Homo sapiens: one gene and its partners. The protein of the gene in region 1 purifies or fractionates together with the protein of each later gene. This does not show direct contact. Each region holds a gene or a part of one and is shown in the gene's direction. Other genes may lie near its edges.

Region 1 (3,651 bases):
GGGGTGTCCTGGGCAGGTGGGGGAGGGAGAGTTGATGGGCAGGTGGAGGGTGTGCCGTTATTCTTCCCACCCCCAGTGAAGCAGAAGAAGTGGCAGGGCCTGCAGGAGATGAGGCTGCCGAGCCCTGAGCTTGAGCTGAGCAAGCTTCGAACCTCTGCCATCAGGACAGCCCCCAATCCCTATTATTGCCAGGTGGGGCTTGGCCCGGCCCAGTCCTGGCCTCTGCCACCAGGTGTCACCGAGGTTTCCCCAGCCAATGTTACTCTGCTCAGGTAAGTCTTCTGCCTCCTTCTGAGAACCTATGCACTCTGAATCCCCACCTCTGATTCTCTCCCTGCTGTAGTGAATTATAAGTCCCAGAAAAAATCTGGCCCACATCCCTTGTGTAAGGGAGAGGGAGGCCCTGAGAAGCTCCAGAAGGGGAAGTAACTTGCTCAATGTCACCTCTCCGTCCCAGTTCTTAGAATATGATCTCTCAGCTGGGCGTGGTGGCTCACACCTGTAATCCCAGAACTTTGGGAGGTCGAGGCAGGCAGGTCACCTGAGGTCGGGAGTTCGAGACCAGCCTGACCAACATGGAGAAACCCCATCTCTACTAAAAATACAAAATTAGCTGGGCATGGTGGCGCATGCCTGTAATCCCAGCTACGTGGGAGGCTGAGGCAGAAGAATCACTTGAACCTGGGAGGCGGAGGTTGTGGTGAGCCGAGATTGCGCCATTGCACTCCAGCCAGGGCGACAGAGTGAGACTCTGTCTCAATAAAAAAAAAATATGATCTGGCGCCTGTAATCTCAGCACTTTGGGAGGCCAAGGCAGGTGGATCACCTGAGGTCAGGGGTTCGAGACCAGCCTGGCCAACATGGTGAAACCCTGTGTCTACTAAAAACACAAAAAATAGCTGGGCGTTGTGGCGCTTGCCTGTAGTCCCAGCTACTCGGGAGACTGAGGCAGGAGAATCACTTGAACCCGAGAGGCAGAGGTTGCAGTGAGCCGAGATCGCGCTATTGCACTCCAGCCTGCATGACAGAGTGAGACTTCGTTTAAAAAAGAAAAAAAATCATGACTCTTGGAGCCCAGGGATTGCCTCCCGCCCAGGGCGTCTGCAGGGACCAGGGAAGTCCTCATCATGCACTCCCACCTTGACTCTGGCCCGCATCTGCCCTCTTTTTTGCCCTGGCTCTATGCCAGTGAGCACCACCCTTGCAGGGCTTCTACCTGGGGACATGCCATGGTATGGAGAGAGTCTATATAGGGTCAGCTGGGCATATGGCAGGGGCAGGGGAGGTAAAGGGGGTACTAGACTCTCTAGGACTCTTCTCCAGGCCGCCTGCCCACTCCCTTCCAACGTGTCTTCCTGCAGAGCCCTGGGCCATGGTGCCTTTGGGGAGGTGTATGAGGGACTGGTAATTGGCCTTCCTGGGGACTCCAGTCCCCTGCAGGTAGCTATCAAGGTGAGAGGAGTGGGACTTCTGGCTGGGGGTAGGAGAGCGGAACACCCTGAAGGGAAGGACAATGACTAGAGCTAGGGTTAACCCCCTCTCCTGAAGCGTGCAGGGCAGCTCAGAAACTGTGCCCTTTTCCTCCCCAGACCCTGCCAGAACTCTGCTCGCCTCAGGATGAGCTGGATTTCCTCATGGAGGCCCTCATCATCAGGTGCACCTGGGACCAGGGGCAGGGCTGGAAGGCGGGAGGGGAATGCCCGGGAACAGTTTCTCTTCACCCTGAGGCTGAGGTAGCAAGTCAGGGGACACAGAGGGCCTCTCCAGCTTTGTGGAGCCTAAAACATGGTTTCCGTCTCCCTCCTGGTAACGGGATATGTCCCCCACCCCACTCAGCAAGTTTCGCCATCAGAACATTGTGCGGTGTGTGGGGCTCAGCCTCAGGGCCACCCCTCGCCTCATTCTGCTGGAACTGATGTCTGGAGGGGACATGAAGAGTTTCCTGAGGCACAGTCGGCCACACCTGGTGAGACCCTTGTCTTAGCCCCCCCAGGCCCCTCTAAAGACCCTGTCCATGTGTCTGAGACCTACATGGACTGATGCCCCCTCTGCCTGACCCAGGGCCAGCCATCACCTCTGGTCATGCGGGACCTGCTGCAACTGGCCCAGGACATAGCCCAGGGCTGCCACTACCTGGAGGAAAATCACTTCATCCACAGGTTAGGAGCAGTCCTGGCTCAGGGGACCCCCATCCCAACTCCCTCCCCAAGGAACAGCCCTTCCACACAGCTTTTAAGGAAATAGATCAGGAAGAGCAAGAACTTCTAGATTCTGGCAGTGATTTTTTTTGCCTACTCTGTAGGGATATTGCCGCCCGGAACTGCCTGCTGAGCTGCGCTGGACCCAGCCGAGTGGCCAAGATTGGGGACTTTGGGATGGCACGAGATATCTACCGGTGCGGGACTTGGGAGGTGGGAAGGCTCTTGCTCCAAGGGGGTTTTCCCCGCACCTTGGTGGTGAACAACTCATCATTCACCTCCTCCCTCCTGTAGGGCCAGTTATTACCGCAGGGGGGACCGGGCCTTGCTCCCAGTCAAGTGGATGCCCCCAGAGGCCTTCCTGGAGGGCATCTTCACATCCAAGACAGATTCCTGGTGATAACACCCTTCCCCTCCCCTTCCCCACTGTTCCCCTCCCCTGAGGCTAATCCTGTCCTTTCCAGCCACCTCATGTGAGGGGAGGCTACACCTGACGGGCCTCACTTGGTTCCCCCACTTGTGATGCAGGTCTTTTGGGGTGCTGCTCTGGGAGATCTTCTCACTGGGCTACATGCCCTATCCTGGGCGCACCAACCAGGAGGTGCTGGACTTCGTCGTTGGAGGAGGCCGGATGGACCCTCCTAGGGGCTGCCCAGGGCCTGTGTGAGTTGAGTGCTGCCCGGGAAGGGAGGTCCTTCACAACCATGGGTGGGCATGAACTCCTGCCTCTCCCCAGGTACCGCATCATGACCCAGTGTTGGCAGCACGAGCCTGAGCTCCGCCCTAGCTTTGCCAGCATCTTGGAGCGTCTGCAGTACTGCACTCAGGTGTGCCCCCGACCTAATCTAACATCCTGGTCTTGTGGGTCAGGAGGGAGGGCCAGAAAACTCTATGCCCCCCTGCTCCCTGACTCTTCCATTACAGGACCCGGATGTGCTGAATTCACTCCTGCCAATGGAGCTGGGGCCCACCCCAGAGGAGGAAGGGACTTCTGGGCTGGGGAACAGATCTTTGGAGTGCCTAAGACCCCCACAGCCCCAGGAACTGAGTCCAGAGAAGTTGAAAAGCTGGGGAGGTAGCCCTCTTGGCCCCTGGCTGTCCTCTGGCCTCAAGCCCCTCAAATCCAGGGGCCTCCAACCTCAGAACCTTTGGAATCCCACTTATCGCTCCTGAGCCCCAAGGGGCCCTGAGGGTAAGGACTGAGGCACTGAGGGTCCCTCCCTATACTCCTCAGGCTCCTGGGTGGCCTGTTATGCCAGCGGCCTCTGTTCCCTGCAGTCTGTGCTGTGTGTCTGGGCCTGTCTCGGGGCTGGCCTGGCAGCGCTGCACTTGCCATGCTGGAAACCAGCCCAGGCCTCCCAGGGAAGGGCCCAGCCACTTCCAGCTTTTGATCTTGGGGCCAGAGGCCGCCTTACACACACCCCAGGTGTCCATGGGGAGCACTGGATTGCTC
Region 2 (3,317 bases), on another chromosome or scaffold:
CCAGCCACAGAGCCTTATTGTGACAGAGAGGGTGTATGCTCCAGCTTCTACCTTGGTAGATCAGCCTTATGCTAATGAAGGTACAGTTGTGGTCACTGAAAGAGTAATACAGCCTCATGGGGGTGGATCGAATCCTCTGGAAGGCACTCAGCATCTTCAAGATGTACCTTACGTCATGGTGAGGGAAAGAGAGAGCTTCCTTGCCCCCAGCTCAGGTGTGCAGCCTACTCTGGCCATGCCTAATATAGCAGTAGGACAGAATGTGACAGTGACAGAAAGAGTTCTAGCACCTGCTTCCACTCTGCAATCCAGTTACCAGATTCCCACTGAAAATTCTATGACGGCTAGGAACACCACGGTGTCTGGAGCTGGAGTCCCTGGCCCTCTGCCAGATTTTGGTTTAGAGGAATCTGGTCATTCTAATTCTACCATAACCACATCTTCCACCAGAGTTACCAAGCATAGCACTGTACAGCATTCTTACTCCTAAACAGCAGTCAGCCACAAACTGACCCAGAGTTTAATTAGCAGTGACTAATTTCATGTTTCCAATGTACCTGATTTTTCATGAGCCTTACAGACACACAGAGACACATACACATTGATCTTAAAATTTTTCTCAGTCACTGATATGCAAAGGACCACACTGTCTCTGCTTCCAGGAGTATTTTAGAAATGTTCCACAATTTACTGAAGACATAGAGATGATGCTGCTGCTTAGGTGCCTTTTAGCAAGCTATGCAAACAATCCTGATAAAACAAGATACATAGAGAGTCAATCTGGCTTCTGAGAATTTACCAAGTGAACAGAGTACCTAGTTCATCAGCCGTCCAGTAAAGCAACCCAGGAAACTGACTGGGTCTCTTTGCCTACCGTATTAACATTAAACATTGATGTTCTGTATTCTGTACTTTACTGCACCCAGCAGACTTTCAACAACTCATTGATCCAAAGATACATGCACAGTCTGAGCACCAGCTATGGTGCTCATAACTTCTTTAAGACTTGAACCCTTTCAATCTGTGTGATTCATTAAATTGGACCATTGATGATAAGAATACACATTGTATGTTTCTGTGCACATGACAGTGTGTGTGTGTGCACGTACATACTGTATAGTCTTAAAAATAGCATTATACTGGCCAGGGGTGGTGGCTAACGCCTGTAATCCCAGCACTTTGGGAGGCCGAGGCGGGTGGATCAACTGTGGTCAGGAGTTTGAGATCAGCCAGGCCAACCTGGTGAAACCCCGTCTCTACTAAAAATACAAAAATTAGCTGGGCGTGATGGTGGGCGCCTGTAATCCCAGCTACTTGGGAGGCTGAGGCAGGAGAATCACTTGAACCCGGGAGGCGGAGGTTGCAGTGAGCCGAGATCGCACCATTGCACTCCAGTCTGGGCAACAGAGTGAGATTCCGTCTCAAAAAAAAAAAGAAAAGGAAAAAAAAATAGCATTATACCTCTTCCTTGTCTCAACCGCCATGAAAATTCTGAACACTCCAAATTCAGTTGAATAATCCAAAACAAAATTTATAAGTATAAAATAATTTTACTTCTTATAGTAATAGTATACTTTAAAAAGCCTCAGGGTATATTATCTTCTAAACAGCTACAATTCAGTGCAGCTACATTAACCAACTATGTTCTCTAGTTGAGAACAACTAGGCCTATTTCACTGCTGTGTAGCCTCAGTGCCTAACATGGGTGCCAAATAAATATTCGTAGAATTACACTGAATTGTAAAAACCATTCGTTTTTGTTTACAATTGCCAAAAATCTCAAAAGGCCCTGTATTTATGTAATTCTTTGAAATTATTATTTTATTTTGATTTCTCAGTTATTGACTGGCTGGGTGTGACTTAGTACATAAGTACTCAATATTATAAAAACCTCAAATAATTGACTTGATTTTACACAACATCCTTCCCTTTTCTACAAGTTAATTTTTTTACAAATCATTTGGGTTATCTCCTAAATAGGTTATATTTTATTGCTTCTAGAAACAATGTTTCAAAATATATGTGCATTATCAGTAATAATTTGTATAAATATTTCCCACAACAATTTTCATAATTTTCAAAGACTAATTTCTTGACTGAAGATATTTTGCTAGGGAAGTGAAACTTTAAAATTTTGTAGATTTTAAAAAATATTGTTGAATGGTGTCATGCAAAGGATTTATATAGTGTGCTCCCACTAACTGTACAGATCAGGACACATATTTTTAGACATCTAAGTCTGTAGCTTAAATGGAGGTTACTCTTCCATCATCTAGAATTGTTTACTTAGTAATTGTTGTTTCTTTTATTATTATAGACTTACTATCAGTTTTATTTTGCCAAGTATGCAACAGGTATATCACTAGTATATGAAAATGTAAATATCACTTGTGTACTCAAACAAAAGTTGGTCTTAAGCTTCCACCTTGAGCAGCCTTGGAAACCTAACCTGCCTCTTTTAGCATAATCACATTTTCTAAATGATTTTCTTTGTTCCTGAAAAAGTGATTTGTATTAGTTTTACATTTGTTTTTTGGAAGATTATATTTGTATATGTATCATCATAAAATATTTAAATAAAAAGTATCTTTAGAGTGACCCTTTCCCCATAGATTTTTATTTCTCTATTATATTTTACAAGGAATATAACTCAGTTTGTTAGGGAGAGTGCCTTAAAGGCAGGTGTTTCTTGGACTTTGTTATTTAATTAGATCTGCTTGCAATAAAAAAAGTTGTCGGTTATCTAAAATTCAAATTTATCGGGGTACTTGGCATTTTCATTGTCCAACTCTGGCAACCTTGTTCCTAAGGAAGTGAAGGTTGCTCTCTGCCCAGAGTAACACTGGAGAAATCTGTTGGGTCTGGCAGAAGAAGGCTAGTATATCTAACCCAAAGAGATGAAATCATTCTACCAATGTTTGAGAGGCTGTTTTAATTGCTTGTTATAGTTTAGAAGGGAAAAGATCAGAGTTGCTGCTATAAGAGAAGAAAAACAAATTTTCTTCTAGGTCCCCAGCTGGGGCTCTGTAACAAAACACAGATTAACAAGAGAAAAACAAACATTAGTCTGTTAACATGTGTATCTCATGCATGCTTTGGAGTAACTGGAATGAGCAGCTCAAAGGGGTGGTTAGAACTTGGGTGTAAAATGTTAAAAGAAGAGCTTTAAACAAATTAAATCTAACAGTTTACTTAAGCAAAGAAAGGTTCACAAAATTGGGCTGCCCTGGAACTAGAAAAGGTTCGGAGAACTCTATTCTACAATAATGAGCAGGCCGTATTCATAGACAGAAAATGGAAGTGAGGTAGGGAAGCTG
Region 3 (3,651 bases), on another chromosome or scaffold:
GTGGAAGTGGATGAAGTTTAGAAGCTGGAGTCCAGAGCAGAGCCCAGTGCCCTTGAACCACACTGCAGTTTTGGGGATTGAATTCTGGAGGAGGAGAATAAGATGTTTAGAAACAGTCTACCAGATTTTGAACTCATTGTGGATAAACAACAATGTTGTTATGTACAGGAAATTTTATGCTTTGGATCCTTCATTCCCAAGGATGAATTTGTTAACTCGGACTACAGAAGGGAAGAAAAGGCAGCTCTACATGGTTTCTAAGGAGTTGCGGAATGTGCTGCTGAATAACAGTGAGAAGATGAAGGTGCCAGCCGCACAGACGCTGAGTGCTGTGTGATGCGGGATGCGTGTGGCTTTTCACAGCGGCTTAGATTTCATTTGGAGCAGACCGTGACATCTGCCCTCCCCACCTGTAGCGCTGGCTGTGGGTCCCTGAGCCTGCCCTTTGATTTCAGAGCTGTTGACTGACACAGGGCTGAATGGTTCCTGCCAGAGTCCTGAATCTGGTGGCCTGTGTCTTTTCTGTGCCCCATTCCCGCAGGGGGGTGAGCCATGGTGTAGTTCTCACAGCTCGCCCTCCTGGGCAGAGAAGGTACTAAAGGTGTAGAGGCTGCGAGTACTGCTGCCCCGACCCTTGGGATTTGTCCTTTGAGGTACTTCCCTTAGAATTTGGCCATTTGGGGGCCCTTCTTTCATTTGCTTTACTGTCCTCCAAACGACGTAATCACAAGTTGTGAGTATCAGTTCGTTCTTAACCGGGGTTTCTCGGTGGGTTTCTGCTTCTCCTCTCCTTTCCCATTCCGTGACGGTTGCTCCATGTGGCCCGGCATCCTTACAGGAGATGGTCCTGTCTTCATCTCTCTGTGTTTCATCTTATTTTTTTACTTACAGGTTATTAACACGGGGATCAAAGTCTGGTGTAGAAATAACAGCGGTGAAGAGTTTGACTGTGCTTTCCGGCTGGCACAGGAGGTAATTTTGGAAGTGGATTTGAACAGCAGTAGCCACAGATGACTGAAGCAGTCGGGAGTAGATGGGCTTGCTGGTCAGCCAGATGGTCTGAGTGGCTCAGGGCTTGGCTGGCACCTACCAGCCACTTGACCCTCACAGGTTATAGAGCTCTCCCAGAGTGCTGGTTTCCCCTCCTAGGGGGGGGTGGGTTCCACACCTGTCCAAGGGGAGGGGCCATAGTGAGGGCTCGACCACCATAGCCGCTAAGAGCATAGCCCCTGAGAGCAGGCTGTTGTCGTTCATGAATGACATCATGGTATCTGTTCTCTCATTCTCTTTATTCACACAGGGAATATATACATTGTATCCATTTATTAACTCAAGAATTATTACTGTATCAATGGAAGATGTTAAGATACTGTTGACCCAGGAAAATCCCTTTTTTAGAAAACTCAGCAGTGAGACCTACAGTCAAGCAAAGGACCTGGGTGAGTAGTTGGAAATGCATAGAGACATAACTTGTATTCCCTTTATAAGGCCAGCAAAAATGCAGGTGGTGTGCGTTGGGGCATATTTATCAATCATAGTTTTCAGTTTATTTATGGCTACATCAATTTCCAGAGGGTTCTGTAGATCCCTGATTGACAGTTCAGAATGCTAAGGGTCAAAGGCATCTTGGGGTTGGTGTACTTCCCCAGGCTCTGGTGGTGCCCTGCTGCTGCCCAGCAGCCTGTGGTGTGTCTGTGTGGCGTGCAGGGCTGGCCTTTGCTCACCTTGCTGGGCCAGAGAGTCCGGGGAGAGGAGGGGTCAGCCTGTGAGCAGCCCTGGCAAGCCTCCCAGCCAGAGCTCTTGACCCACTTGCCTGTCAGCAGGTCGGGGGTGGGTGGAAGCAGGTCTCTGTGCATGAGCAAATTTGTTTTTTTCTTTTTTTGTTTTGAGACAGAGTCTCGCTCTGTCACCCAGGCTGGAGTACAGTGGCACGATCTCGGCTCACTGCAAGCTCCGCCTCCCAGGTTCAGCCATTCTCCTGCCCCAGCCTCCCAAGTAGCTGGGACTACAAGCACCCGCCACCACGCCCAGCTAATTTTTTGTATTTTTAGTAGAGACGGGGTTTCACCGTGTTAGCCAGGATGGTCTCAATCTCCTGACCTTGTGATCTGCCTGTCTCAGCCTCCCAAAGTGCTGGGATTACAGGCGTGGGCCACCGCGCCCAGCCAGTAAATTTGTTTTTTAAGGTACACAGCCTCACGAGACTGGCTAACATGCAGATTTTAATCACCTGTGTTAGAGCAAAATAAGAGTCTTGCCAGCAGTTCTGACTTTTCTGCTAGCCAGCTGGAGTAGATTATTGGTCATATTGCTGCTTTTATATTTCATCAACTTCCACTTCAGATCACTCCAGTGACGTTTTCCCCTAAGCATAAAAATCATTTCTCCAAGCTGTTCTAATTTTCTTTCTGTTGTCTTCATTCTTGTTTATTTTTTTAAATAACTTGCTGTTTAATATTTTTGGCTCAATTTGATCAAAAGTACGTGAATCACTTCTTGCAGTTACGTTTCTTACTTGCGTTTAAAACTTACTCGTGTGGTTCCTTTGGGATATAAAACATGCTCTGTGGAGTCTGTCTCCCACTGCCGTCTCCAGGCAAGAACCACAATTTAAAGTAGAGATTCTTGTAAAGGATAAAGGACCTGTTTATACTGGTTTTCTTTTAATCCTGCACTTAGATGATTGCAGTATTGTTTTAGACAATTTTTATGTATTTCATGCCATTCTGGGAGTTGGTGTTATAGTTTATTTAATTTTGAATTTTGAAGAATTAACCAGCAGTTAATCCCCAGCCTCCTTGCTTCTCAGAGTGGATTGTCAGGTGACATCCCTTGAAGTCCCTGAATGGCTTTTGCCTGGGTCCTCTTCCAGATCGTCCCTACTGCGTCATTTGGACTTGGTTCATGTATCCAGACGGCCTCTTTTCACCATCTAGATCCTTGAAGCCAAGAATGTAGATTATTTGTTGTTTTCTTTCTTCAGAATACTTAACACATCACTAGGTGCAGAAATGTGCTCAGCGCATGCATCCACTACCTGGAAAACCTGGCAAATGTGTGTCTGTTTCTTTTCCAGCAAAGGGAAGCATCGTGCTGAAGTATGAACCAGATTCTGCGTAAGTCAGTACACGCCCTGCCCTTAGACACACACGCCTTGTCATTAGCTACAGTGTTCTCGTTGGTGAGGAAAGTGACTTGGGAAGGTGGGAACCTTCTTCAGGCCTTTTGTGATTGTTCCTCAGAAGTAGCCTTGTGAAAACTTCAGAACCAAAATATTCCTGTAGGTCATCATGAAGATGCTGTTTCATAGAACACTCAGCTCAGGCTAAGTGAATTTTTACTTACAGAGAATAAAATGCATAGTACTTATTTTTTAAGCATTAGAAACCAATGAAAATTTCTGTCTTGTACAGAGTAAGTGTGAAGATTGGACAGTTGAGTGAGGTTCCGTTCTTTTGTCCTCATGGCTGGTTCAGCCATGTGTGTTGCTGACATGTTACTGCATCAGGAGTGCTAGGGCCGGAGCATGGGATTTGCTCACGCTTGCACTCACGGTCCCCACGGGACCACTGCTCCACGCTGCTTGCATGTATTCACGCTGCATCCTTGTGGGGGGCCTTGGGGGAGCAGGTGCTGGTTTTGGCAGCACTT

The links.
Region 2: the proteins of LTK (region 1) and DSG2 purify together in Homo sapiens (affinity purification with mass spectrometry; one large-scale study listed by BioGRID and IntAct). This does not show direct contact.
Region 3: the proteins of LTK (region 1) and NSUN2 purify together in Homo sapiens (affinity purification with mass spectrometry; one large-scale study listed by BioGRID and IntAct). This does not show direct contact.

The regions. Positions count from the first base shown.
Region 1 is NC_000015.10:41,503,716-41,507,366, reverse strand, and holds part of LTK (leukocyte tyrosine kinase receptor isoform 1 precursor), read left to right. Parts: intron 1-76; coding exon 77-272; intron 273-1,361; coding exon 1,362-1,452; intron 1,453-1,589; coding exon 1,590-1,654; intron 1,655-1,836; coding exon 1,837-1,966; intron 1,967-2,061; coding exon 2,062-2,159; intron 2,160-2,302; coding exon 2,303-2,395; intron 2,396-2,492; coding exon 2,493-2,594; intron 2,595-2,726; coding exon 2,727-2,861; intron 2,862-2,934; coding exon 2,935-3,025; intron 3,026-3,122; coding exon 3,123-3,371; 3' UTR 3,372-3,651. UniProt on the Homo sapiens protein: Receptor with a tyrosine-protein kinase activity. Following activation by ALKAL1 or ALKAL2 ligands at the cell surface, transduces an extracellular signal into an intracellular response.
Region 2 is NC_000018.10:31,546,254-31,549,570, forward strand, and holds the end of DSG2 (desmoglein-2 preproprotein), read left to right. Parts: coding exon 1-490; 3' UTR 491-2,755; downstream 2,756-3,317.
Region 3 is NC_000005.10:6,601,926-6,605,576, reverse strand, and holds part of NSUN2 (RNA cytosine C(5)-methyltransferase NSUN2), read left to right. Parts: intron 1-168; coding exon 169-304; intron 305-891; coding exon 892-972; intron 973-1,300; coding exon 1,301-1,439; intron 1,440-3,076; coding exon 3,077-3,116; intron 3,117-3,651. UniProt on the Homo sapiens protein: RNA cytosine C(5)-methyltransferase that methylates cytosine to 5-methylcytosine (m5C) in various RNAs, such as tRNAs, mRNAs and some long non-coding RNAs (lncRNAs).